Regions from separate parts of the Homo sapiens genome. Here regions 1 and 3 are each linked to region 2. The links come from fine-mapping of genetic effects on gene expression. A gene starts in region 2. Each other region holds a variant in brackets. All regions are shown on one strand. Distances are between the middles of the regions.

What was found. PIP is the estimated chance that this variant, and not a neighbour inherited with it, causes the effect.
Region 1: its variant is fine-mapped to the expression of SLC12A7 in whole blood (INTERVAL, PIP 0.94).
Region 3: its variant is fine-mapped to the expression of SLC12A7 in whole blood (TOPMed, PIP above 0.99).

What each region holds. Positions count from the first base shown.
Region 1 is chr5:1,155,897-1,165,651 of GRCh38, reverse strand. It overlaps a transcript of SLC12A7 not described here. Among named protein-coding and RNA genes, the nearest start is that of TERLR1, 18 kb to the left of the region's middle. The variant A/CA (reference allele first, on the strand shown) is at 5,303.
Region 2 is chr5:1,109,806-1,118,824 of GRCh38, reverse strand. It overlaps SLC12A7 (solute carrier family 12 member 7), which reads left to right and starts at 6,762. Exons shown (of 24, transcript NM_006598.3): 1 at 6,762-6,957. The coding sequence starts at 6,834. RefSeq lists an enhancer at 876-1,409.
Region 3 is chr5:1,081,986-1,091,740 of GRCh38, reverse strand. It overlaps SLC12A7 (solute carrier family 12 member 7), which reads left to right. Exons shown (of 24, transcript NM_006598.3): 4 at 2,613-2,759; 5 at 3,381-3,435; 6 at 4,708-4,838; 7 at 6,268-6,509; 8 at 7,785-7,996. Among named protein-coding and RNA genes, the nearest start is that of MIR4635, 24 kb to the right of the region's middle. The variant G/T (reference allele first, on the strand shown) is at 6,252.

The DNA.
Region 1 (9,755 bases), 46 kb before region 2:
CCAGCATTTTTCCAGCTCTGGGCGGGGCCCTTTACATCCACCTCTACGCGCCCCCTTAGAAGGGGCTGGTCTTTCCACTCAGCTCTTTGTGTCCTTAGAGGCCAAAACACCTCCTTGCACCCTAGGGGGATGACCCTGCTCTGGTGCGCCAGGGCCCTTATTTTGTGTCCCGATAAGAGAGGGCTGAACCTGGTTTTTCTTCATCAGAAGGATGGTGCGGCCAGCCTGGGAGGAGGGGCTGCCTGGGTGGAGGCTTCTGCATGGCTGTTCAAAGTGCGGCTGTGCTGGCTGCCCAGTGCCTCCTGTCTCAAGGCACAACTCTCAGGTGGACGGAGGACAGAGGCCCTGGAAACCATGGGCCCGGCTTGTCCCCACCCTGGTGCTACAGCTTCAACTCATGGACAAGAGCTCCTGCCAGTCCCCGGGCCCGCAGAGTCTCAGCTTCCTTCCTCCTTGCTCAGTGTCTGCGCTTGTGTCTGGAAAGGGCGTGAAGCAGAGGTTGTGACATTGGCCCCAGACACTCCCTCCGAGAGCCCTGTGCCCTCCCTGACCTTCATGGGCCTCTCGTCTGGGAGACACAATGTTATCTGATTGAGGAGGACTCCCCACTCCGCATCACTGCCCTCCTCCCACAGAGACACAGGGTGTCCTGCAGGGAGAAAAAGGGCCCAGCCGACTGGCTCTGCACGAAAAGTACCCTCTGGAGACGGATTTATCCGTGTGCTGGCTGTTCATGCAGCTAGAACATGTGGTCTCTGAGGCCAGCACGGGGAGCGCAAGGGACACGGGGAGCTCAAGGGACACGGGGCCACACTCCCCCCAGCGCTGGTGGCTTCATTTCAGCAAATTAGGAGCAAAAGCTTCTCAGTCAATCAGGGTGGGCCCCTGGAGGAGGTGGTGGGGTCACAAAGGTGGAGCAGCTGGCTGTGTGTGTCGGTATTTCTGTGTGTGTGTCGGTGTGTGTGTCTCCATATCTGTGTGTCTGTGTATGTCTGTGTGTATCTGTGTCTATTTCTGTGTGTATCTGTGTGTGTCTCCATATTTGTGTGTCTCCATCTGTGTCTCTGTGTATCTGCATGTCTGTGTGTATTTCTGTGTATATCTCTGTGTGTGTTTATCTGTGTGCATCTGTGTCTATGTTTGTGTGTGCACAGATCCACACTGTGAGATGAGAGTCCAGGGTGCTATGTGTCTGGTCCTGGTGGCCCAAGGGGGGCACCTGATGTCCCTGTGGATGTGACTTCCCCGGGCCTGAGTCTGTCCCCCAGTCTTTCGGACTCCCATGACCCTCAAGTGAGCCCACACCATCCTTCCCACCCACTGCCGCTTACCAGGCTGAATCCTTGGTGGGCCACAGCCCCCACCACCCGCGTGCAGCAGTGCCCAGGCCACTCACGAGGGAGACAGAGCTCACGGGCATCTGCAACCCCCTGCACTTGAGGGTCACAGGCTCCTCCTTGGGAGGCACCTCAGCGGGGCTTGGGCCAGCGTACCCCGAGCGCCTCTCGCTGGAACAGGCTGAGGCAGCCTAGAAACCCAACCTCGATGGGGAGCCCGGGGCCCACAGGGCCGCAGGATCAGGTCGCAGTGCTGGGCCAGGCCATGGGTCAGATCGCCAAGTTTCCATGTTTGCAAGTTTCAAGTGGGGCAGGTCTCACCGTGGGGAGGGGCCCGTGGGCAAGGACTGGCCCAGTGACCTTTTGGCATCAGGCAGGGCTGCAGGCCAGGAAGGCAGGCCAGGCCCACCATGGGGGTTTCTGAGCACCCTGACCCTGGGGGTACCCCAAGACTGATCTTTCAGCCCAAATCCAGGAGACCCATCTGGGATGTCACCCCTGACCCCACAGCACTGGGCACAGCTGCTCAATGAGCCAAGGTAAGAACCAGGACCATGTGCCCCTGATTGGCTACTGGAACTGGGCCGTGGACCCCACGACTGTGGTTCAGTGTCCCCATACCCCTGCCACGGCCCAGGGGAGACCACCACCCTGACCAGACCACCTTGCCTGCTCCACAGAAAAACGCGTCCAGAAATGTTACGGTTCCCTCAACCCTCAGCCCGTGACCGGCCCCCACACCTGGCTAGCCAGACCCTTGTATCGCACCTAAACTGAGCGCTGCAGGGGCCGGCCCTGGAGATGGCTCAGACCTCTGCCCCCAGGAAGTCCCCAAGGGGCAGGAGCACAGCCACCCTCCCAGTGGGGAGCCCCAGAGCTTACTGCAGAGCACAGGAGTGGGAATGGGAGGTTATAGAGACACTCTGAGGCCACCGAGAGCCCCTCCAGCACTCAAGGCCTTCCTGGCGCCCAGCCCAGCACCAAGCTGACAGCTCCAGCCGCTCACCGGCTTGCTGGGCCTAAATTCCCCTCCTCTTCTTCCTAGCAAGGTGACCGACGGCTGTGGCCCTTGGTTTGCTCCTCTATAAAATGGGGACAGCCATGGCCTCTCCCCCAGTGCTGCCATGGGAAGAAAAGAAGTTCTTACAATAAGCCCTTAGCTGCCTCCTGACAGGTGGCAAACACACCCCTTGTGCTGAGCTCATTGTTAAAGAAAGAAAGAAACAGATATCAAAAAGAAAAGAGTCTAGTGACAGGAGGGAATGTTTCGGAGGGAAGAAAAATCATTGAATCCGGCCAGTCAAAAGCCAAGTTTCTTCCTCAAGAAAAGCAGAAGTTGCCTTCGTTGGCATCCTCACTAGGCTGGGGCAGGCGCCAGCTCTCAGCCCCTGTCCCTGAACAGAACCTGCTGCCAGGTGGAGGCTGCACCCAAAAGCCAGGCCCCTGAACGTCTGGATGTTACGTTTCCGCTCTGTTCAGAGTCCCCTAGAGCCCAAATTCTACCCTAGGCCCAACCCTGTGCACATCACCCACCCTTTGCACGTCACCCACCCTGCAAAATCCCAAGGGCAGCCGCACCTTAGACACGGATTCCTTAGTCTGAGAGAGGACACACCCACCCCCCACCCCCAGGGCCTCGAAGGGCATCCTCAGATGCAGGAGGCACATGACAAATGCAGGGGTGACTAGGGGAGGGTGGCTTGGTTTCTGCTGCCCGGGAGCTTCCTCTCATCCTGTTCCAGTGGGTGGCCGCGTGGCCAGTGCTGGGTCAGCTGCCTGTCCCGTCACGGGACCCCTCGGGGTCACGGTGGCCTCAGGAGGACTGGCCGTAGGAACATGGCGAGGACACATCCTCGGGCCACGGGCAGCTGGCTTTGCTGACGTGGGGTGGGCGGCTGGCCGGCCACCAACCAGTGAGTGGGCAGGGGTCTCGGCCAGAGTGAGCGCTGGAATGGGGCTGGAGGAAGGTTCTAGAAGCAGAGAGGGTACTGGAAGAAAATGAACTCTGCTTTGGGTCATCTGCAGACCCCGGGAAGCTCCTGCTGTGGCCTTGCGTGCACAGAAAGCTGGGAGCCCCTGTGTCCGCACGGTGAGGGCGCCCCAGCTGGATGCACCTTCTGGAGCAGTGGGGATGCAGGATCCTCCCCCTCGGCTTCTGTTGTGACTTGCTCCCTGGCTGCTGTCCAGTAGCCGGGCACATGTCCAGCACCCTCCGTCGCTGGGCACTGCACATCCCAGCCACAGCCTCACCCCAACCCCTCCCGTAGCTCCTCCCTCGGCTGGGGGCCAGCAACACAAGGCCGGGCTGCCCAGCTTAGCCTGAACGTGACCTCCGTGGACGGGCAACGGCTGGGGCCCTGGAGCAGCTCCTACTCCTATAGGTCTGCCGCAGGTCCCCCACTGGCCTGGCCCTGGTGAGGGTGATCCCAGACCTGGCTGAGGGTCGGCAGATGCCCGGCCCTGCGGCGGCCGCCCCCAGCAAGGGGCTGTGCCCTGTAGCTGCGCCTTTCCTTAGGTAGCGCTGTCTCCACGGCACCCTCAACCCTGGGCCTTTGTCTCCAGGAAACGCCACTGAGCTAGCTGCTCACAAAGGGCAAATCGTGGACCAACAGACCACGCGGGAGTAGAGAGCTGAATGGGACACTTTATTTCAGCAGGCGAAGTAGCACCTTTGCAAACAAGCTGCAGAGCACCAAGGGGGAGTTTCAGGAAGCGCCTGGGCTGGAGGACACAGTGGGTGTGCACCTGGCAGCTGGAGTTACAAAGCGAGCCTGTTGTCTCTCCCACCACAGAACCTGCCCAGAGGGAGGGCCCAGCCCACAGAACCAGGGAGCAGTCTCACGCCCAGCACCGTGGGCCATGGAACAGGCTGCGGGGAGGGAGCTGGGCCACCTTCGCCTGGTCCTGGAAGTCAGGAACAAGAGCAGCATTCACAGAGGACAGGGTGTGCAGAGAATTCCCCTGCGCTGAGTCATCTCAACCTTGAGCCCGTCCTGGGGCGGAGGCACCATTGTTCTCCCAACTTCGGATGTGAGGAGGCTGAGGCCCTGGGAGGATTTACCTCGGCAAGGGGGTGCAGGACAAGTGCATCAGTCTGCTGTTGGGTCAGTAACACTGCGTAACAAGTCGAGCTGCAGTTACTTATCCCTGCTCACTGTCAGGGCCAGCTGGTCTAGGCTTATCGGCCCTTCTGGGCCGTGCTCTGGGCTGAGACCTCTCTCCAGGTCTCTCACCCTCCAGGGGCCGGCAGCCTTACCTGGGATGTGTTTCTTTTCTTTTCTTCTTTTTTTTTTGAGACGGAGTCTCGCTCTGTCACCCAGGCTGGAGTGCAGTGGCGCAATCTCGGCTCACTGCAAGCTCTGCCTCCTGGGTTCACGCCATTCTCCTGGCTCAGCCTCCTGAGTAGCTGGGACTACAGGTGCCCGCCACCACGCCCGGCTAATTTTTTGTATTTTTGGTAGAGGCGGGGTTTCACTGTTTTAGCCAGGATGGTCTCGATCTCCTGACCTTGTGATCCGCCCGCCTCGGCCTCCCAAAGTGCTGGGATTACAGGCGTGAGCCATCGCGCCTGGCCCCTGGGGTGTGTTTCTTACAGTGACAGCAGAGGCCAAGCCCAGCCTGCTTGAAATCCATTATTGATCCACTGTTGATCCAGAGCAGAGCATGCTTGTGTCCTCGGAGGGGTGGAGGGGGAAGAGAGCAGGTGTTTGCTGAACAATAATCCAAGTACCCCCCATGATCTCGAGGCAGAGGGAATGGAACCCAGCCCCCAGCAGCAGTGTCGCTGTGGCGCTGTGGTGGCACCCTGCCTGCTCTCCCACCACCCTTCAGCAGCTCCTCTCCAAAGTCTGCCCCTCCAGGACCCCGTCACGGGGTAGGGGGAGGAGGCGTCCCATCGTCCAACGTACAGTTCAGTAAATGGTGGGGAGAAAGGGTTAACATCCTCTCTCCTGCCCCTTGCCTCC[A/CA]CCCATCTCTGTCTCTCTCTCTCTCTCTCCCTTCCTGTCTCTCTCTGTCTCTCCCTCCCTCTCTCTGTCTCTGTCTTTCTGTCTCTATCACTCATCCTGTGTCTTCTCTCTGTCTGTTTTTCTCCCTCCCTCTCTCTGTCCCTCCCTCTCTCTGTCTCCATCTTTCTCTGTCTCTATCACTCTCCCTGTCTCTCTCCCTCCCTCTCTGTGTCTCTCTCTCCCTCTCTTTCTCTGTCTCTGTCTCTGCTCCCCACTGCACTTCCATCACTCCTCACTCCCAAAGGCTCTCCCGTTCCCTGGTCACCTACCTTGTTGAGGCTCCCCCAGGAGGGCCTCCAGGTCTGTGGTGAGACCCCAGGGATCTGACAGCAGGTGGGAGTGAAGTCATGGGAGCCCAGGTGCGGGTGACCCCTGGAGGTGACCCCTGAGTCCCTCTGACCTGGCTGCAGAATGAAGGCGGAGGTGCCTGCATGGGGCCAGACCACCCTCCTGGCCCTTGCAGTCAGTCCCCCACAGAACTTGCAGGAAAAGTGGCGAGTCTTACTGTTTGCAGATCAGACCTCAATTTTGCAAACTGACAACTGAAAAAATTAGGGGCTATAAGTAGGTTGTTAGTCAAAGAGATTAAAGTTGTCATTACAAACAGTGGAAAACAATGACACCAAGAGGCCAAGGCTGTTTTCAGGGGAAACTGTATAAGCTTCACTGTTTTCTCCATTTAGCAAGATAAACAAAAAGCATGAAGGAGTACTCAGATCAAGATGGGAGGAAAAACCGTCTTGAAACAAGAAAGTGATAGAAGCAGAATTTAAGACCTGGAGAGGAGGATAAAGCAGGAACAGCGGTTAGCCTGTGCTCAGCCTCCTGATGTCTGCAGCCATCTCCCCACTGAGGGACGCGCGTGGCCGGTGCACCTCTCCCCTGTCCTCAGCCACTCGGCGTCCACAGCCCTTGTCCTTCTTCCCATCCACTGCTCAACGTGGAGAACTTACGGGAGCCAGGCGGCATTTTTCTGTCTTTAGCATTTCATAAAAGAACCTGGATTCTTACAACCTTTCTCTCCTGCGGAGGCGTCAGACGATCAGAGCCCGTTGGGCCTCCTGTGTCTCCAGTCCTGTCTTCGGGAGGCATTCACCACAGTCCTCCCGGGACACATGCAGCCACTGTCCACGGGAGGCCAAGGTGGGCAGTGGCCGCAGTGAGCCCCATCGTTCAGGCTGACTCAGCATGGCTAGAGGCTTCTAAGGGGCTCCAGGGCCTCCCAAATTTCTGGCAGCCTCAAACCCAGGGACAGGGTGGGCAGAGGGTGTGGCTGAATGGCAGATATTGGGGCATTTGGAAATGAAAGCTGGGGACAGGCTGCCTTTGGGGCAGGAGTCCGGAGGAGCTCTCACTTGAGGAGCCTGAACAGGGGAGGCGGAAGGCCGGGAGGTGAGAGGATCTGAGTTGTGGGACCTCCTTCCTCCTCAAGTCCGTCCCAAGCCGCCTCCGGGTCTCAGGGGAGGCGTCCAGGGTCGGCCTCATGGGGTAGAGCAAGAGGCAGCACTTCAACTCCCCAGGCGGCACAGTGCTTCCCGGAGACACCAGAACCACCCTCACTTGGGTCCAGGCCACACACTCAGTTCCACCAGCAACACAGCCCTGGATATCGCCCTGGAATTTCTAGGAAATTCCAAAACAAGAACAAAGGGGTGAAAAGAAAACAGAAGAGGTAAAAATGACAAAAAAGGACAACGATATCATTACTTACAGGTTAAAAAAATTCCTTGCACGCCGGGTGCGGTGGCTCACGCCTGTAACCCCAGCACTTTGGGAGGCCGAGGTGGGCAGATCACTTGAGGTCAGGAGTTCGAGACAAGCCTGGCCACCATGGCAAAACCCCATCTCTACTAAAATACAAAAATTAGCCGGGCGTGGTTCGCACCTGTAATCTCAGCTACTCGGGAGGCTGAGGCAGCAGAATTGCTTGAACCTGGGAGTTGGAGGTTGCAGTGAGCCAAAATCGCACCACTGCACTCCAGCCTGGGTGACTGAGCAAGACTCAGTCTCCAAAACAAAACAAAACAGAACAAAAATTCCTTGCAAAATGCGAGAGGTTGAACTGGAAATGTATTTGAATAATAGGATTTAGAGTTCTGCAAGGTAGAAGATTACAAAAGAAACACACAACAGCCAAAGGTGTTTCATCCTGTTTTTACATGTCAGTCCAGTAGTGACAAGAATGTGAATACACACACATAAATTAATGGAAAAAATGTGCAGGACCTGGGTGAAAATATTTGACACCATAAAGATGTCAGTTCTCAGCAAATTTATTTATACATTTAGTGACTTTTCAACCAAATCAGAAATGTATTTGGGGGGAACGTCCAAAAATGATTCAAAAGTTCATCTTGGAAAAAGGTGTGGGGAGGTGGGAACAGGTGTGAGAAGGTTGAGCAGGTGGGAAGAGGTGTGGACAGATGTCAGCAGGTGTGAGCCAGTGTGGGCAGGTGTGGGCAGGTGGGAACAGGTGTGAGTAGATGTGAGCAGGCTGGAACAGGTGTGGACAGATGTGTGCAGGTGTGAGCCAGTGTGGGCAGGTGTGAGCAGATGAGAACAGGTGTGAGCAGGTGTGGGCAGGTGGCACAGGAGTGAGTAGGTGTGGGCAGGCTGGAACAGGTGTGGACAGATGTGTGAAGGTGTGAGCCAGTGTGGGCAGGTGTGAGCAGATGGGAACAGGTGTGGGCAGGTGGGAACAGGTGTGAGTAGATGTGAGCAGGCTGGAACAGGTGTGGACAGATGTGTGCAGGTGTGAGCCAGCGTGGGCAGGTGGCACAGGGGTGAGTAGGTGTGAGCAGGCTGGAACAGGTGTGGACAGATGTGAGCAGGTGTGAGCCAGTGTGGGCAGGTGGGAACAGGTGTGAGTAGATGTGAGCAGGCTGGAACAGGTGTGGACATATGTGTGCAGGTATGAGCCAGTGTGGGCAGGTGTGAGCAGATGGGAACAGGTGTGGGCAGGTGGCACAGGGGTGAGTAGGTGTGAGTGGGCTGGAACAGCTGTGGACAGATGTCAGCAGGTGTGAGCCAGTGTGGGCAGGTGTGAGCAGGCATGCCTGCCGGTGCCACATGAGTGGAGGTGGGGCGATGGTGAGAGGATGTGCTGAAGAAAGGAGTTCTCATCCTCCCTGGTCTTTCCACTGGTGTTAGCTGTGCCCTTGAGACCCAGCCTCTGGTGATTTCTTATCCATAGCACCACAGACATGGGTGAGGCGTGTTTCTCAGCCTTCTGCACACGAAGGTGTGGCCACAGGACTAAGTTCTGGCTAACAGGATAAGCGAAGGTGCTATGTGCACTCCTAGGCTTCCTAGGCTGTGCTCTGCGAAGGAGTGGCTAGCTACCTTTCCCGTTTCCTCACTCTACTGCTGGGATTCAGATGTGATGGCTGGACCAGCAGCAGCCACCGTGGACGACGAGGGCAGAGTATGACTGGAGGCAGCACAGCTGACCACTTGCTCCCTGTAAGTCACTGTCTAGATGTCACCTGAGGCCCTCCCCACACCTCAGAGCTCTTACCCTTGCCTCCCTCTAGAACCTACACTTCACGGAGGCAGGGGTTCCCTTCTGTCACCTGCAGGGCCCGGCACAGGTTAGCATTCATAAATATTTATTGAATCTGTGAATACATATTGTAAAGTGCTCAATACTTCCACGCAAGGTGGTGGCAACAGCATCATTAGAGGGGAGGAAAGAGCCAGTTGCAGAATTTGTGCAGCTGCGGTGGTTGCAGGAACCCCTGAAGAGCAGGCGGGGTCTCCCAAGACTTCTAGGGTCCGCGGCTCCCAGCGCCTCCGCAGCCAGGCTGGCCTCCGCCTTCCACCCTGGCTGCCCCGGAGGCCTTTCTCCCCAGGTGGAAGTCCCAGGAGGAGGCCTCTGCCTCGCACGCAGGCACGGCTGAACCCTGCTTGGCCAAGGGCTGGAGTCTGGGGATGGGGGAGGTGGAGGCCCCAGATCAGGGCGCCCCTCCCCACGGACCCAAAGGCCAGCGAGACCTCCACCCTCACCGGCCCCCTGGTCCCGGCCCTCGGTGGGCGTCGCCAGAGACCGCGGGCTGCAGCGTTGCTGCCAGGGTTGGTCGTCGTCGGTTCCAGGCGGCGCAGAGCGAGGTCTGTTCCTCCCCTCAGGCTTCTGCACCGCGCGCTGACCCGGTCGCCCGGCTGGGGCGTCTCCAAGGTCACGCAGCGAGAGCCGAGGCCGCTCTTCGTTCTTCGGGGGCCGAGGCCGTGGTCCCCCCGCGGGCAGGGACCGCTGCCGAGGTGTCAGCCGGAGTCCGCCTCGCCCTCCCGGCCCCTCCCCGCGCCGCGCGGCCCCATCCCCGGCGGTGCGCTCGGTCCCTCTCTCCCCCCCGGCCTCCCTCCCTTCCTCCCGGCCTCCCGCGCCCGCCCCGCCGGCCCCGCCCTCCCCGCGCTCAGG
Region 2 (9,019 bases):
ACAACCTTGGTACCTGCAAGGCTGCGGGGCCAGCACATTTGATGTTATGAGCACAGCTGTTTACTGTTGTCTGGGTCCCCCACACTGTCTGATTTTTAATGGGTTCCATTAGAAATGGGTGAGACCAGGCTCTCTGAGGCCTACGTCAGGTCCAGGCTTTCTCCTTCCTCCTGGACTCATTCGAATTTCCTGGCAAGAGGCATCCCCCGGTCTAGAAAGGGGAAACTTCCCAAGACCTTTCACGCCCAAGGACGGCTTTGGCGGCCTTCGCATTTGGCCAACAGCTCATCTGTGTCTGGCGAGGGCGCGAGTCTGGGTCACACCTGTTTTTGGAGAATCCCTGGCGCTGCTGCCAGGAAGACTCTTCTGCCGGGTCTGGATGGCTGCCAGGCCTGCCCACGATGTTCTCAGATTGCACTGAAACGTTTCCCAGTGTGGGATCTTCTTATCTCTCTGTTCAAGGGGCTGAGGCCCATGGACTCCCCCTCATGTAACCGCCCAATGGGTTCACCTTGCCTGCTGCCCAGACAGAGCTGATGGATCAAGACAGGGGAATTACAGGGGAGAAAGAATGACTCACGCAGAGCTGGCTGTGCAGGAGACCGGAGTTTTACTGTCACTCAAATCAGGGGAATCGCAATAGGGAAAGAGGGATTCACGCAGAGCTGGCTGTGTGGGAGACCGGAGTTTTATTATTACTGAAATCAGTCTCCCCACACATTTGGGATCAGTTCTTTTTTTCTTTTTTTGAGACAGAGTCTCACTCTATCCCCCAGGCTGGAGTGCAGTGGCGTGCTCTCAGCTCACTGCAAGCTCCGCCTCCCGGGTTCACGCCATTCTCCTGCCTCAGCCTCCCGAGTAGCTGGGACTTCAGGCACCTGCCACCATGACCGGCTAATGTTTTTGTGTGTATTTTTAGTAGAGACGGGGTTTCACCGTGTTAGCCAGGATGGTCTCGATCTCCTGACCTCGTGATCCACCCACCTCAGCCTTCTAAAGTGCTGGGACTACAGGCGTGAGCTACCGCGCCCGGCAGGGATCAGTTTTTAAGGACAGCTTAGTGGGTGAGGAAGCCAGTGAGCCAGGAGTGCTGATTGGTCAGGTCAGAGATGAACTCATAGGGAATTGAAGCTGTCCTTTTGTGCGGAGTCTGTTCCTGGTGGGGGTCACAAGATCAGATGAGCCAGTCTATTGGTCTGAGTGGTGCCAGCTGATCCATCTAGCGCAACAAGGATCCGCAAAACATCTCAAGCATGGATTTTAGGAGCAGTTTAGGGAGGGTCAGAATCTTGTAGCCTCCAGCTGCATGACTCCTAAACCACAATTTCTTTAATCTTGTGGCTAATTTGTTAATCCTACAAAGGCAGTCTAGCCCTCAGGCAAGAAGGAGGTTTATTTTAACTATAAACTAAGTTCCTCCCAAAGTTAGTTCAGCCTACGCCCAGGAAGGAACAAGGACAGCTTGGAGGTCAGAACCAAGATGGAGTCAGGTCGGAACCCTTCCACCAACGGTGATAATTTTGCAAACTTGGCTTCACTAGTTGCTTCGTTGCTCCATCTCGGGCTGGTAGGAACCCCTTCCCTGGCTGCCTCCCCAGCGAAGGCTGCACCCCCACCCCCGCAGGCCAGGCCCAGCTCACCCCAGCCTGCTCAGTGGCCCCTCGCAGTACGCTCCCCACCAGCCCCCCAGCCCATCCCCACGGCTCTGGGGTTTGAGCAGGACCCTCCGCGGCTCTGAGACAGAGCCAGCAAATCCCTGATCTCATGGTGTTGCTGGGGTCGGGGGCGGCATCCATGAGGGTTGGCCTCGTCTTCCAAACCCAGCTCTTTATGACGTCTGAGAGAGGATTGGCCACATCGTGTCCTGGGCTCTGCTTCCATTTCTGAAGGGCTGCGTGTCTGCCAGGTTGGGAGGTTTTGAGCCCATCTGGACCCTGGCATGGCCTTTCCCCCTGAGCCGACAGCAAACATTTGCCCAAGCTTCACGGGAAAGAAGTCACCTGTGGAGCAGGAACGAGAGCTGGCGGGGGGTGGGTGGGCTTCTGGGCAGCTTGGACTTCAGAGGAGATGCGAACCTTCCCTGTGTCTGCAACTCACGGGCGTCCGTGTGAGATTCTGAGTAACATTATGTGAGTTACACTTTGAGAGAAGGAAAGCCACACACGTGGTCTAAAAATCCTGGAGCCTCCTGAGTGAGGGGAAGAGTGTGTCGGACTCATCCACGGAATCTTCCAGAGGGAACTTGAGCGAAGACTCAGTGTCCGTGAATTACAGGACTGAGAGCTTTGTCGCTCAAGCTTGACCTTCTGTTGGCGTCACTTACAGTCTCAGACACAGATGGTCTGAGACGAGCTCTGTGGGAGGGGAGGCCCCTTCTATTCCCAGATTCAGCTCCATGGGATGTACCCCTGCCCAGCAGGCACAGGACCCGGGGGAGGCTCAGAACCCCACGTACCTGGCCACTGTGCAGACAGGCTCCCCAGCGCCAGGCCAGGCCCACCATCCACCAGGCCCAGAGGCCCCGCCCTGGGCAAGCCAGGGATCGGGGCGGGGGGCAGCTTGCGGTGCCTGCCTGGGAAGAGCCTGGCATTGTTTGCAGAACCCTTGGGACAGGGCTGCTTCTTCAGGGGAGATGCAGCCATGGGCCTGGGGCTGTGGCTGGGGTCTTCTGTCATCCCTGCCTACCACAGCTCCCTTCGAGCCCCCACAGGTGGTGGCGGATGTGGGGCTTTAGGGCCACCCTGGCCATGGGCAGAATTCTCGGCCCTGGTGGGACTCCTGGGCAGGGAGAGTGTGGGTCCCACAGGTGGCCGGAGACTCTGCTTCCTCCACTGATGTCCACATACCCCACCCTGCCAGGAGAGGCTCACCACGCTTAAAAAAAAAAAGGTTTGTTTTTTAAAAATCACTTTAGCCTTGGGTAACTGGGGCCTCCCTTCCCTCTCCTCCCTTCCCACCTCTTTCCTTTCCCTCCCCCTTCCCCCGATTCTCCTTCCTCCCCTCTCTCTTCTGCTCTGCCCTATTCGCTCTCTCCCCCACTCACCATGGGTGCTGGGCCAACAGGCAAGAACCTGGGTGGGTGCCCGGCCCTGCCAGGCAGAAGGCGGGTGGCTTTCTGGTGAGAAGGAGTGTGGGGCCTCCAGGGCCGGCCTCCTCCAGGTGTCCCCTTCCCTGGACACGGAGCTCTCCACGGACACTCTGCCTGCCAGCCCCACCTGCATCCTTCAGCCCTGGAGGTGCGCCCTGCCTGATACCCGACAGCAGGTTCCCAGCCCAGAAGGATGCAGATGGCGCACCAGGAGATGAGCCCCCCACCCTAACAGGAAAGCAGAAGTGGACTGGGGGGACCCGCGGACCTGGGGAGAAGCTCCGTGGGCAGAGGCACACAGATACCTGGAGGCAGCCTGCGTCTGGTGAGAGCCCTCCCAGGCCACAGCCCTGATTCCAAGCCGTGGGCACGAGCGGCCTCCTGGCTTGGAAGCTGGCATTGGGTGTCCGTCCTAATCCATTAGAAACTCCACCCCAGGGTGGCAGGCAGCAGGGACTGTTTCGAGAATCTACACACAGAATGTAACCACCATCGGCTACACTTTCGCACTAAATCCCAGGGTTCCCCTGGCTGTGCCCTGCACACGGCCAAGAGGCCATCGCAGATGACCAGGCTCACATCATAAGGATGCGAGATTGCATTTGAAGAGGCCCCCTGGGCAAAGCTGGACACCGATGCTTGGAAAGGGCACTAATGGTGATCGACTGAGACCCACCAATGTGTTTCATCAGCGATGTACAAATATACTTGGGAGATTGTCGGGAACCAATTCACCGTTGTGGAAACTGACAAATGAGGGAGAGGCACCCTTGCCCTGCCTTTCCTGTGGGCACCATTATCCAGATGGCCAGACGGACAAGATGAGCCTCTCCCTCCAGTGAATTCATGACGAAGCCACCACGCACTGGAAAATCACCATTTTGCTCCATGAATCTGTCGATTCAGACATCAAGCACCAACGACTGCGGACGGAGGAGCTACCACCAGACAGTGCGTGGCTCCCTCTGCGAGCCCCCGGCCTTGCCAGGGGACTGGACCCGGATCCCAGCAGTCCCCTGGCTCCAGGTGCCCACTTCCAGGAGACGCAGAGGCCTGCACCGAAAGATGCAGCTCCAACCCAGGCCTCGGGTACCTCCACGTGTCCGAGGGCCACTTCCTACAACAGGTGCCGGGTACAGAAAAGGACAGAGGGATGGAGGTGGGTAGGAAGAGAGCACTGAAAGTCACACAACGCACATTTAACCCCAGGCTGCCGTGTGGGAGGATATACGTGGACACGGAAACCCACAGAGCGAAGGGAGGGGCCACCAGACCCCTAGGGATGGGCTACTGATGGGATGGGAGGGGCCTGCAGCGGCTTCTGGGCTCCGGCAAGGGTCTCTGTCTTGACCCGCAGGTGCTTACAGGGTGCTGATCCCTGTCGTGACTCACCTGATTAGAATGCAAAAGGCAGCAGACCTCACCCCCCACCCGAGGTCTCCCACAAGTAAGATCTAAGATTTAAACAAGAGAAGCCACCTGCCTTCTGCCTGGCAGGGCTGGGCACCCACCCAGGTGCTTCAGCCATGGCCCCTGGTCCTAGTCAAGATTTTGTAATCACAGAGAAGACCACCCTCGGAGCTGCCACAGGACCCTAAACTCCTGGGCCTCAGTTTCCTCCTCTGTAAAATGAAGCTGATGAGTCCTGAGTCCGGGAGCTGGCCCTGGCCACAGACCCTCCAAACCAGCTCCTCTGAAGGTCCACAGCCAGCACATGGCGGGCAGCCGGCCCTGGGGTCCTGGGGTGTGAAGCAGAGCTTGGATGTGCGACGGGAGCCCTGCACATCTGTTGCTCCTGCTGGCATCACTTGGGAAGGCCTCGTGCCCACCCTGAGCTCTGTCCAACCCTCGGGAATAGCGCTGGGTGGCAACCAGGGTTGAATGTACAGAAGCCCCTGCTGGGGTGACTGAGGAGAGGGTTTACCCAGCACCCTAAGTGTGAACCCTATAATTGACCCCATTGGGCACTTCTGTTCCCACCCCCTGGATCTTTTTAGCAAAGCCAGCCCTCCTCATAAGGATGCCTGGGAACTATTTTATCTTCTGGGGAGGTGATGGTTTCCTACCTTCCAACCCACTGACCCAGGGAGGCAGCTGACCTAGCACCATCCACAGCCCTGAGCTCCCTTTGGTGGGAGGTGGGGTGAGAGTGTGGAGCAGGCACAGCTCCAGACACCCAGGCCAGAGGAACCCCCACCTCTGCAAGGGCTGGTGCTGGATGGGCGACGTTCCAGGAGGGTCCCAGGCCTACAGCTTCTGCCCAGAAGAGTCCATGGGGCAAAGGGGTAGAACCCTAGGCCACCCCAGGGCATGACTGGCTTTACTGGAAATGGCTGGAGAGGTTGGGCTTGCGTTCCTTGAACCCACAGAGCCCGGTGATCCCACAGCCCGGAGGCCATCACTCCCCTCCAGCTGCCTTTTAGGATTAGACAGGCAAGCGGCTAAAACATGGCCAGGCCATACCCATTTTCCACGTGACAAGAGGCTGTGGCCGTGTTTGCCCACACCACCTGTGTTTCTGCTTTGTTGTCGTACAGCAGTTGTGGGTGATTAGGAATAAAGGCTGACTCATTGCACCTGTGTGCCATAGCATTTTAGCCCAATTCCCCATTGACGGACATCTGATTGTTCCGTTTTTCATGAGTCATTTGTTGAGAAATGTGCCAGGTGCTGGCCGGTGGTATCCTGGTGTCTGCCTGGTGGGTTCTGGAACTCCACCTTCCCTGCATCACCCTGTGAGCTTCTGGAACATTTCCCAAGGAGGGAAGGGAGGGTTCTAGGGCAGGGGCCGCGGGGCACTCCTGGGGCAGGTGTGGAGGAGACTGGGGTCTTCGTGGGTGGTATTTGTCATGGGTGGGGGGGGGGACTCCCTCTACTGGGTTAGGTCCCTAAACTGGAGCTGGACCAAGCTCCGGAGTACCCCACCCCCAGGCTATCCAAGGCTCCTTCCACTGGAGTTGCCTTTGCAGCCAGGTTGGGCTAGCCAGGAGCCAGGCTAGGAGCCCAGGGTCTGAGCGGGTGTTGACAGCCTGGAGTGGGTGGGCGGACTGTGTGGGAGGTGGGTGCTGGAGGATGGCAGGGGGGAACAGGAGGGGGAAGAAGGAGGGGTAGGGGGCTGGAGCAGGAAATGGGGGGCAAACAGGAGGGGGTGCGGGAGGGGGCGCAGAAGGAGGAGGGGCCCAGCAGGAGGGGGTGCAGAAAGGGCAGGGGTTCCAGCAGGAGGGGGTTCATAGGGGCAGGGGGGCCCAGCAGGAGGGGGTGCAGGAAGGGTGGGGGGGTGCAGGAGGGGTGAGGGGTTCCAGCAGAAGGGCGTGCAGGAGGGGCAGGGGGCTGGAGCAGGAGTGGGGGGTCGGGGAAGGGGACAAGAGGGGAGGCGGGGAGGGGGCCGGGGAGGGCGGGGAGGGCGGGGAGTTCCAGCAGGAGGGGCAGGGGGCTGGAGCAGGAGGGGGTGCAGGAGACTGAGCGGGGATTCGCGGGCTCTGCGATGGTCGGGAGCGCAGGCAGCGAAAGCCCCGCGTCCCGGGTCGCGGCGGTCAGACAGACGCAGCCTGGGTTGGGGTCCCTGCAGGAAGTCGCCGCGGGCCAACTTTTCGTGGGGCCGCGGGGCAAGCAGGTGAAGTCACGTGGCCCGGGCGGGGCGGGGCGGCTCGGTCGGACCCCGCCCCTGCCTCCAAGTCCCGTGGCGTCGGCGGGAGCGGCGCAGCGCGGGCCGGGCCGGGACGGGGACTGTCGGCTGCAGGCGGCCATGCCCACCAACTTCACCGTGGTGCCCGTGGAGGCTCACGCCGACGGCGGCGGGGACGAGACTGCCGAGCGGACGGAGGCTCCGGGCACCCCCGAGGGCCCCGAGCCCGAGCGCCCCAGCCCGGGTGAGCGCGGCCGCACCTGGCCGGACAAAGGCCGAGCGCCCCGAGCGCGGGTCTGGGCCCGGCATCCGGGAGCGGAGGCGGGCGGCGGGGCCGGGGGTACAGGAGGCGCCCCTTCCCGCGCCCCCACCGCCTGTTCTCGGTCCCCCACGAGGGCCCCCACCCCACGTTAGTGGCAGCGCTAGGGGGCGAGGGGCCCTGCCAGGGCTCCCGGTACGGTCAGCTCGGGTGGGACCGGGGGCAGAGGTGTGGACGCCGCTGCTGGTAGCCATGGAAACGGGGAGGGGCTGGAGCGCGCCTCCGGAGGGAGCCCGGGCCCCTGGGTGGTCCCTAGTGGGACAGGGGTGGCGGTGGAGACCCGGGCGGTTCGGGAGCCGGGGCGTCCTGCGTCCCCCGCGCTCTCCCTTCCCCTGCGCCGCGGCCGTCCGGTAACACTAGCCCGGGCCGGCCCGTCCTGCCCCCGCCTGACCCTGGAGGAGCCGCCCACCCCCCAGAGGCGGAACAGGAAGGACTGCGCCCTGGCTGGGGAGGGGGCAGCCACCGGGGCCTTGCTCAGGCCGCGTCCTCCGTGTTCCCGTCCCCCGTTCCGGGAATCTGGAGGTTTCTAGCACTTTCACTTTCTCTAGGGGGTGGGGACGGGGCTGGGGAGAGAATCCCCCAGCCCTGTTCCCTCCATCCTGGCTCCAAATCCCAGTTACTCCCCGGATCTCAGCCCCCTCTAGAAACCGGAGGCTCTTAGGCCCTTCCATCCGGAGTCTCTGAGAAGGTGTCCGGACTCAGTCCAGCCCCCACCCCGCGTGCTGGCAGTGCCCGCATGTGCCCGGGTCTCATGCAGTGGGTGGCAGCCTCCCTGCTCCCTGGCAGTGGAAGGAAGGTGAGGTCTGTCCAGGGACAAGTCCGGTGCCAGACCCCAGATCCTTCCTAACCCACCATCCCGGGCAGGAAAGGCCAGACATCCCCTCCAGGCAGTTTAGGAACCCGGAGACACGGGTGGGGACCCACCGTGAAGGCAGTGGCCTGGTGGCCTGGGGTGCGTCATCAGGGTCCCCGTGGCGGGCGAAGAGTGGTCTCAGCTTCCTCTGCACAGAGGCCAGCCCAGATCTTGGAAGTGGTCAGGCGGGGCGCCAGGCTCAACACCAGGTGAAGTGCTAACTAAGCAGGGTCCGTGAGTCCAAGCCCCTTCTCTCCAGTCACCACCGTGGAGGCAGGAAGCACCAAGGAGTGTGGGCCCTGGCGTGGTCTTTCTGTGTGAGCTTTGTAGCAACGCCCCCGGAACGCACTCAGAAGGAGCCTCTTCTTGTCTGGCCGGCCCCTTCTCAAGGCTGATCAGGTTCACTTTTGTCTTTAGACTGTAAGTGTCATTTGCTTTTAAGCCAGAGAGAATTTTGTGCTTGTTCGTTTTCTTGTCTCTTCTACTCTCAAGGCTGTTGAGCAGTGCCCTGGGCCTGTGTCTGCCCAGCAGGAAGTGGCCCTGGCTGAGCGCTGCCCATGTCGCTGCCCGCGCACTCAGGTCCTGCTACGGGCGTGTCAGGAGGCTCCCTGGCCTTCATGAAATTGAGAACGGGAGGGCATGGGCCAGGTGTGGGCTTCTGGACACTTTTGAGGGTGGCCCTGTGGTGTGAGCTGAACTTGGGAGATTTCTCCGAACTGGCAGAGAACTTGCACCTGGCGCTTTTGTGCTGGACCCGCTTCCTACTTCCACAGAAAGGGCCCGGTGCCCAGCCACTGCCAGGCTGTAACGGGCACGCAGCTGCCCTTCGGAATCCACTTGATCACATCCTGATCTTCAGCCCACAGAGGTGCGGCGAGGAGTCCCGTGATGGGCACGGAGCCTGGGGAAGGAGGCACAGGCTTTGCTTTTTGGTGGTGGTTGGGGGCGGGGGTCCTGCAGAAGCCGGAGCCCCTCCCAAAGGCCTTCTGTGTGGGGTCCACACCACAAGGTCACAGGCCAGGTCCAAAACTGTCCGGCCACAGAGTTACCAGCACCCAAGCTCTTCCTGACTCCATTGCCGTTCCCCTGAACGGTCTGTGGAGGTACTGGAGCTTCTGGGCTGGCGCCTGGGTG
Region 3 (9,755 bases), 27 kb after region 2:
CGTGCCGCACGTGGACGCCGCGGAATTGGGTGGTGGTGTGCCGGGCTCAGCACTCAGTACCTTTCCGCACGTGGACGCTGTGGAACTGGGTATTGCCGGGCTCAGCACTCAGCACCTTTCTGGGGTTTCACGCATGCTGGGCACTACCTTGAGGCCTCATGGGCTCAGGCTGGTACTCTGGCACCAAAACTCAGGAGCCACAGGCCTTCCCTGTCTGTCCGCCTGTGTGCTGGAGTTTGTGTCCTAGGGAGATGTTGGCTTTCTCCAGGGAGCAGGTGTCTTCCCACGGGCCTGGTCCGAGTGCTCCGGGAACAGGCTTTAGCTCCAGCTCGGCTGGGCTCAGGCACCACTGGCCTGGACATCCAGCTCCAACCCCTCTGCCTGATGGAGCCCAGCCTGCCATGAGGTGCCCATAGAGAGCACACCCCAGCTTCTCTCACCCTACTTGGTACTGAGACATGACTGAAACGTCCAGGCAGGTGTGTTTGTTCATGGCACACTGTGGGCCAGGGCCCAGGAGGTTCCCACCTGGAAGGCTCTCCCTGGCCCTCCCTGGCAACCCTACCCCCAGGCTGGTGGCTCTCAGGCCTCTGTCCCTCAGGGACAATATGCAGGTACCCCAGGCTGATGCTGCCTGCGTTTCAGTCGTGGAGGGACCAGGGCCCGTGACCCCAGCAGGCCTGTTGTTTGACGGTGGCGGGTTTCAGTTGGCAGTGACTCCTTCGGCTCCCTTAGGGGACCGTGGCTCGGCCCCTGGGGTGGAAGGGCAGGGGCCGCCCCTGGTCCTCTTTGCCAGGCTCAGAGGCTCATCCCCAGCAGACCTGCTCCCATTGAGGAGCCTTTTCAAGGGCCCAGGCATCTCCAGCCTCCCGCGCCTGAAATTGGGTCAGGTTGAGCCTTAAAAGTTGCCTTTAGGCGCGAACCAAGAGGCCAAGGCCGGCCATGCCCTTCCGTGAGGAGTCAGGATCCCCCGCCTTTGGCCGAGAACCAGCTTCTGACTCGCCTGTCACGGGGCTGCGGGATTTGAGGCTGAGCCTGGAGGGCAGGGGCCCCTGTGTGGACCGCGTCTCTGCCTGGAGCTCTGCCTGTCGGCTCCTGCGTTAGCTGAAGCCTCGCTGGGAAGTCACAGCAACAATTGTCCCTGGAGCCTTGCTGTCACCTCTGCCCTGGGCTCTCAGTTTTATCCAATGAGAATGTCCCAAAGCCGGTTCTCCACCATCCGCCACCGCTTCTCTCGTTTGCACCAAGAACAAAGCATACCCAGATTTGGAGGGCCCAGCAGCGGCCCCCAGCCCCGTCACCCTCTCCTCTCCAGGGCCCCCGTCAGAAGCAAGTCGCTCCCCTGTTGCTTCCCACCTAGGGCTCAGGGAACCAAGTGAATCCCCCAGGCTCTCAGATCCAGGGCTTCCCACGCTCCGAGCTGCTCTTACATTATTTTTCCCAGGGTCCTAAAGTTGGTGGAGCCCTAGAGCCCTGCCCTGGCCCCAGCCTTGGCCAGTCTGTGGGAGGCGTTCCGGCACGGTGACCCCAGAAGCCACCCTGTTTGCTTTTGTGATGTGGTGTTCAGCGTGCTCTCCCTGGGAGCTGCCCCTCACCTGGTCCCCTGTTCCCATCCTCCCCAGGCCTGGGCTGTGTGAACCCCAGGATCGAAGCCCCGCACGGGGCCTGTTCTGATCCACATTGTGGCCACTGTTCACAGGAAGTGTCTTCAAATAAAACCTTCCCCCTTTTCCGTATTGACCTTGAGACGTTTTCCTGTTAAAACGTCACCTTGTGCTGGCACCAGCCGTCCTCCAGGTCTGAGCCACGTGCCTCTGCTCATGGCGGGAGTGGGGCTGAGCAGGCAGTGGGGATGGAGCTGAAACTTCTACCCCAGCCTGGCCCGTCCCGAGTGGAGCTGGGGAGCTGCCTGGCAGGCGCTGGCCTGCTCCTGGCTGTGCTGCTGACCCTTGCCCATGTGGGTTTTCTCAGGGCACAGGGTGTGTCCCCCTCTCTGGCACAGGTGTCTGAAGCAGGCTGCCTGCTCCGTGCTGGGGCAGGCGGGGTGGCCCCCACGTGGATATCTGAACCTTTGCTGTTATCTCGTGGTGACCTCCGTGCCCGGTTAAGATGTGTCAGTTTCTGCCCAGGGCCGACGCTGAGCTGTGGATTTTTTTTTTTTTTTTTTTTAGCTTTATGGGCAGCAGCCGTCTCATCCCTCCGCTGGCTCTGCTTCCATTCCTGAAGTCTCAGGCTCTCCCAGGGTGTCAGATCTCAGGCCCTGAGCCATCCAGGGAACGGAGCCGGGGGCCCTCTCGTTCTCCCTCTTGTTTTTTCCATAACTTTTCCAGTGTAACAGGTTTCCCTCCGTCGGGGAGGCACAGCGGAGCAGCTGCATCTTGGTTCTCTGCCAACCATGTGGTTCTGCTCCCCTCCCCTAAGCCCTCATTCCGGGATGGTCAGGGGTCCTGTCCTGGGCCTCTCTCTGAACCTCCATCTGTTCTGGGAAGGACTCCTGCCCCCTCCTGCCCCCACGGCCGCTTTGCCTGCCCAGGGCCTGAGTGCAGCCTGGGGAGGGGGCTCCCTCTGGGTGTGGGGTACGAGCCCCTGGGACACGCTATGCTCTGTCGCAGGCTCCGCGCATGGGCACCTTCATCGGCGTCTACCTGCCGTGCCTGCAGAACATCCTGGGCGTCATCCTCTTCCTGCGCCTGACGTGGATCGTGGGGGTGGCTGGTGTCCTGGAGTCCTTCCTCATCGTGGCCATGTGCTGCACATGTGTGAGTCTCCCCCGGCCAGGTGTGGCTGTGCCTTCGGGCGGTGGCAGCTGGACAGTAGGGCTCTCCCCAGATGCCGTCTCCCCTGGCCGCTGTGGTTGTGCCTTCGGGCGGTGGCAGCCGGACAGTAGGGCCCTCCCCAGACGCCCGTGTAGACGTCGTTCAGCGCCGTCTCCTCCACGAGAGCCGGGCAGCTGCGGGGATGAGATGCCACACTGTCCGGGGTTAGTGCTGGCGTGTTGACTGGCGTGCTGGCACCTCATTTACCCGTGTCTGCGGACAGGCATCTCAGCCAGTGGTGGGTGTCATGGGGCGGCACCCGGGGGCTGAGGCTTCCAAGGGAAGGGACACCCTGTGTTTTGATGACATCACCTCCAGTTTGGAAGGACCTTGGGCACTTTCAGGGGTCGCTGTCATAGGGGAAGGGGTGGGAACCAGGACACGCATGCCTGGTGCCCGGGAGCCTCCAGGTCCTGTTTCCTAGCCACTCCATTGAGATGGAGAGCCCTGGAGTTGGGGGCTGGCATTCGGCGGGAGCCGGGTCATAGACCCTGACTTGGGAGTGTTGCGATGCCGGCAGGCTGTTGGAAAACTCTCCTCAGATGGCTGCCTGTCTTTTTGCAGACAATGCTGACCGCCATTTCCATGAGTGCGATCGCTACCAACGGTGTGGTCCCAGGTAAGGGGTGCCCGCCAGCCGCGGCCCTGAGTCCTGTTAGAGGAGTCTGTGTTTTGCCGCACGGCAACCGCGAGGAGGCCGCTTGGCGAGGCCGGGCCGGGGGCTGCCTGGGGGTCTCAGCCGGGCCTTCTGCGTGTTCTCCACTGGCTCCTCTGGCGTTTGAGCCGTGAGGTCACGGCTGTTTGGTTTTCTTCCCCATTTTGCTGCGTGGTGACCGTCTCTTGCCAGGGTAGGCAGTGCCCACCAGGCAGCGGGCTGGGGAGGGGGAGGCACGGGCGATTCCAGTGGCTCCTGTAGCCCAGCGTGTGCCATAGGCTGAGTTCTTGGAACCTGTATCTCACGAGGGAAGGTGAAGACAAAACACTGCCCTGACCTTGTTAATTAGTAATAAGTTAATTACAATACATAATAACTAAATAACTAGTGAACCGAGATGATATTAATTAGTAATAAGTTAATTACAATACGTAATAACTAGTAAACTGAGATGATACTGTTAATTAGTAATAAACGAATTACGATACGAAATAACTAGTGAACGGAGACGCTGCCACGTCTGCTTCTGAGTGCATGTGTGCTGCGCGTGTTAACGGCTGGGCTTGCTCAGCACCAGGTCCTCACGCAGCTGGTCCCCATCCCCACGGGGGCATCGCTTGGTGCTCAGCGGACTTCCCCGGCCTCAGGAGAGCACGAGGGCCTTCACCAGGGGTCTCCCTCCGCAGCCAAGGGACCAGTCTCTGCTTCACGATGGCCGCGTCCATTAGGACCCCTTCCACATGCCACACGCACTGCTCAGAGCAGGGAGAGCTGTGTTCTCCAGGCAGCCCTGGGGTTGCGCCCGGCTTTCCCGCCAGTGATAGCGTGCGTGGTTCACAGTACACGAGACGACTCCTGAACATCCTAGTTTCTCTTTTGCCTTTTTCATAAGCAAAACTTAGTGGAAGTGGGGGCTGGGGCTGCCACTGATGTACGCGGGACTTTTTCTGGGACCTGCTGGGGCCTCCTGCTCCCCAGAGAGCCTTATCCCTGATCTCACCTGGTCCTCATGTCCATGAGAGCGCGTGCTCTTGGTGTGGAACGTGTGCCGAGCCTCGGGAGGGGAGAGTTCACCGTGGAAGCGTCTCCATGTGCTGCTTTGCGGGTGGACGAGGGTCTACACGCTGCCTTCGCAGAGACAGGCCCTCCTTTGCCCGTGAATGGCAGCGCAGACCGCACCTCGGGTCCGAGTCCAAGTGCGCCCCTGACCCGCGGCTGCCGCCTTTGTCTCCGCAGCTGGCGGGTCCTACTACATGATATCGCGCTCGCTGGGACCCGAGTTTGGAGGCGCTGTCGGCCTCTGCTTCTACCTGGGCACGACGTTTGCAGGGGCCATGTATATTTTGGGGACCATCGAGATTTTTCTGGTAAGTGTGCTGCTTTGGAAGGGTTCCCACCCCACAGTCTGTGGCAGGATGCCAAGGGGCCCTGCCTGACCCACTCTGTGGCACACACAGCACACTGAGCCATCCTGACCCCACTGCCCTGGCTGCCCCTGGGCTCTCCTGGGCTCTGGCCATGGCGGAAGCCACTGGGCAGCGTCCACTCAGCAGCGACCTGTGTCCCCCTTGAGCACCATTGCTGCCCTCCGTGAGGCGTGCCTGGCATGAGCTGGGTAGACATCTGGACTGTAGATCTGAGCCCCGCGTAGGTGCAGTCCTGCAGTCGGAGCTGTTTTAGGAGCAGGGCTGGAACTCGGCTTAGAAGAACCTTTTGCCAGGATCCCAGCCTCTTCTCTGCCTGATCTGGGCACTTGGCCGAGGGTCCCAGAGCCCAGCAATGTACAACCAGGTGATGTCATCACCTTCTCAAAACAGGCATGCTCAAAGCATGTCCCACATCACCTGAGCACAGCTGAGAGCTGTGGCCTGAGTTCCTTGGTCCTCGTGGGGACGGGAACCGCCCTTCTCTGGCCGACGGGTGCTGTCCTTCCTGCTGAGGTTCTGAAACCCGCTGTCCCTGCAGGGCTTCAGAGACGCTCACCTGAGCCCCTGTCCCCAGTCTTTCTGCCCCTCCCTCTGCTGCCAGACCTGGTTCCTGGCCTCCTGGGTTCCTGAAGAGAGCCACATGGCCAAGAAGGTTCTGAAACCTTTCAGTGGGGTCGCACCCACACCCGTCCCAACCCGAGTCCCCTGGCCATGTCCCTCCATCTTTCCACCTGCCCCGGGTGCCGTGGCTGCCGCACTCCCAGGATCCCCTTTGGTGGGGGTGGGTGCCATGCCCTCCATGCCTGCTGCACCCCAGTCCTGTCCTGGTCTTGAGGGAGCTGAGCAGCACTGTCTCACGTCTCCGTCCCTTCCCTTGAATCTGGGCAGAACAGAGGTTGCCCCCCGCCGGCGTGGTCAGACCCTGTGTGTGTCCAGGACGTCCAGCCGGGGTGGGCCGAGCTCTCTGGGCAGCAGTCACATTCCTCTTAGCAGAAGGTGTTTCTTTTGAGTGCGGACATGCGGATGCCCCGGGTCCTGAAGTTGCTTTACTCTAAGGCTCCCGGGTGGTTCCTGGGAAACGTTCAGGCCCCTGGCTGTCCATGGCCTGTGCGCTGACCCCCGCGGGCTCCGTCCCTCGCCTGTGCGCTGACCCCCGCGGGCTCCGTCCCTCGCCTGTGCGCTGACCCCCGCGGGCTCCGTCCCTTGCCTGTGCGCTGACCCCCGCGGGCTCCGTCCAGCACGGATGCGTCCCGATGGCCCCGGCACCTGTTGGGAGGAGGCCCCTGTGTGGCGCTGGGGGCTTGCGGGAGGGACGGGCACTGGGGAGTTGTGTCCGGGGACGGCCTCCCGACC[G/T]GCCTTGTTCCCACAGACGTACATCTCCCCGGGTGCGGCCATCTTCCAGGCGGAGGCTGCAGGTGGCGAGGCGGCCGCCATGCTGCACAACATGCGTGTGTACGGCACGTGCACGCTCGTGCTCATGGCCCTGGTGGTCTTCGTGGGCGTCAAGTATGTCAACAAGCTGGCGCTGGTCTTCCTGGCCTGCGTCGTGCTGTCCATCCTGGCCATCTATGCCGGCGTCATCAAGTCTGCCTTCGACCCCCCGGACATCCCGTGAGTCTCGGGGCCTCTGAGCCGTGGGTGGGTGTGGGGCTGGGGCCAGGTCCCATGGGCTCTGCCCGCCTCTCGTCCATCATCCTTGACGCCGAGCTCCCCGCAAGGGGTGGGCTGGGTGTGACCGTGGCGGGAACCCCCGTGGGCTCGTTCTGGGGATTACAGGAAACCCAACGGTGAGGTGGGCCGAGGTACCCTCGTGGCCGGGTCTGAGCATGAAGACCCTCCTCAGTGGCAGGAGGGCTGGTGAGGGGTCTGGCAGGTTTCAGGGGTGGCCGGTGGCCCTGAGCACGGTCAGGTGCAGTGAGCGTCATGGGTGTGGCCCTGGCTGCTGCTGGGGCCTGGGTGTCTTCTCCCTCCCAGAGGTGCTTGGAGGGGCTCTTTTCTTGTCCTTTTGGAGGAGCAGCTGGGAGGCGGCCCAGGGTCCTGGAACATGGGAGTGGCCACCAGAGCCCGCAGGGAGCAGGTCCAGAAAGGGCCAGCAGCCAAGCCCCTTGAGGCTCCCGCGGTTTTGCCGTCTCTGCGTGGAGGGAGCCCCTGAAGGAACAGCCTCATAGAGGCCTCAAAACAGAGGGAGGCAGAACAGCTGCAACCCCACAAGCCCGTTTTAGGGAAGCACAGCTGCCCTCCCCCTCGGGGACCCGTCCTGAGACCCCCTGCCGATGCTTGACGCTACGGCCCTGTGTAGACTGTTTTCCACGTACAGGCCTGGCTTATACGTCGGGGGCGGCACTCCTGTGCTCTTGGCCGTTGGCACGTGGCACGAGGGTGGCTTGAACTCAGACACTGAGATTGTGACAGCTGACCCGGCCAGGACGCCGCCGAGGGCCTCGGGGAGGGAGCGGCTGCAGCGTGGCTGTGCTGGCGCGGGGGGAGGTTGCTGGGTTCCACCTCACTACTCGGCACCGCGCGGTGGAAAACGTGTGAATTGTTTACGTCTAGAACGCTTCATTTAGCACGTTTGGACCACGGGTGGCCGAACCATGGATGAGGGGACGGCTGTACAGTACAGCGTTCCTGCTGCAGCCTGGCCTGGTCCCCGGTCCCTGGTCCCCAGTCCCCGGTCCCCAGTGTGATCCCTGGCCCTTGCATTCCTGCTGCAGCCTGGCCTGGGCCCGGTCCCTGGCGTGATCTGTGGCCTTCCTGTCTTGGGAGGTGCAGGGTGCCAGGAGCCACTCGCGGGCGACACCATGGGTGCCCGTTGGGGGAGCTGGGTGGGGCAGTAAAAGCCACTTCGGTGGCAGCACACGTGCCGTGCCTCCCTGTCCCGCCCAGGGTCTGCCTCCTGGGGAACCGCACGCTGTCACGGCGCAGCTTCGATGCCTGCGTCAAGGCCTACGGCATCCACAACAACTCAGCCACCTCCGCGCTCTGGGGCCTCTTCTGCAACGGCTCCCAGCCCAGCGCCGCCTGTGACGAGTACTTCATCCAGAACAACGTCACCGAAATCCAGGGCATCCCGGGCGCGGCCAGTGGTGTCTTCCTGGGTGAGGCTCACAGGGCTGCAGCTGGAGCTGGGGGGTGGCGGGGGCAGCAGGCGCTGGCCCTGGTGGCTGCTCTCGCCTTAGAGTCACTCTCAGGGCCCCAATTCCTCCTGCCTGGCCGAGCCCCTTCCCAGCTGCTGCTGATGAGCCTGGGGGTCCCTGTACACACCCCTGGCAGAGCCATAGAAGCCAAACACGGTGTGGCAGGGAGACAGCCTCCGTCATGGTCAGCAAGCTGGTCTTAATGCTATGGATTTATTTTCATGACCTCCTGGCAGCATGTATGGGGAACTTGCTGTGTTAAGAAGGGAGTGGTAGCTGGGCGGTAACTTCCCCCTCTGTGTATCCTTCTCTGATGAGAGGCTGCCTCGGACCTGCCCCAGGGGGTTGAGGGAAAAGGACCCCTGGCAGGGTACACGAGACCTGCTCCAGAACCCGAGACGGGAAGCCCGGACTTTCCAGAACCCGAGACGGGAAGCCCAGGCTTTCCAGAACCCAAGACAGGAAGCCCAGGCTTTCCAGAGCCCTAGAGAGGAAGCCCAGGCTTTCCAGAACCCTAGAGAGGAAGCCCGGACTTTCCAGAACCCGAGACGGGAAGCCTGGACTTCCCAGAACCCGAGATGGGGAAGCCCGGACTTTCCAGAACCCTAGAGAGGAAGCCCAGGCTTTCCAGAACCCAAGACGGGAAGCCTGGACTTTCCAGAACCTGAGACGGGAAGCCCAGGCTTTCCAGAACCTGAGATGGGAAGCCCGGACTTTCCAGAACCCTAGAGAGGAAGCCCAGGCTTTCCAGAACCCGAGACGGGAAGCCCAGGCTTTCCAGAACCCGAGACGGGAAGCCCAGGCTTTCCAGAACCCGAGACGGGAAGCCTGGACTTTCCAGAACCCGAGACGGGAAGCCCAGGCTTTCCAGAACCCAAGACGGGAAGCCTGGACTTTCCAGAACCTGAGACGGGAAGCCCAGGCTTTCCAGAACCCAAGACGGGAAGCCTGGACTTTCCAGAACCTGAGATGGGAAGCCCAGGCTTTCCAGAACCCGAGATGGGAAGCCCGGACTTTCCAGAACCCTAGAGAGGAAGCCCAGGCTTTCCAGAACCCGAGACGGGGAAGCCCGGACTTTCCAGAACCCTAGAGAGGAAGCCCAGGCTTTCCAGAACCCTAGAGAGGAAGCCCGGACTTTCCAGAACCCGAGACAGGAAGCCCGGACTTTCCAGAACCTGAGACGGGAAGCCCGGACTTCCCCAGAACCCGAGACGGGGAAGCCCGGACTTTCCAGAACCCTAGAGAGGAAGCCCAGGCTTTCCAGAACCCAAGATGGGAAGCCCAGGCTTTCCAGAACCCGAGACGGGAAGCCTGGACTTTCCAGAACCCGAGACGGGAAGCCTGGACTTTCCAGAACCCGAGACGGGAAGCCCGGACTTTCCAGAACCCTAGAGAGGAAGCCCAGGCTTTCCAGAACCCGAGACGGGGAAGCCCGGACTTTCCAGAACCCTAGAGAGGAAGCCCAGGCTTTCCAGAACCCTAGAGAGGAAGCCCGGACTTTCCAGAACCCGAGACGGGAAGCCCGGACTTTCCAGAACCTGAGACGGGAAGCCCGGACTTCCCCAGAACCCGAGACGGGGAAGCCCGGACTTTCCAGAACCCTAGAGAGGAAGCCCAGGCTTTCCAGAACCCAAGATGGGAAGCCCAGGCTTTCCAGAACCCGAGACGGGAAGCCTGGACTTTCCAGAACCCGAGACGGGAAGCCCAGGCTTTCCAGGAG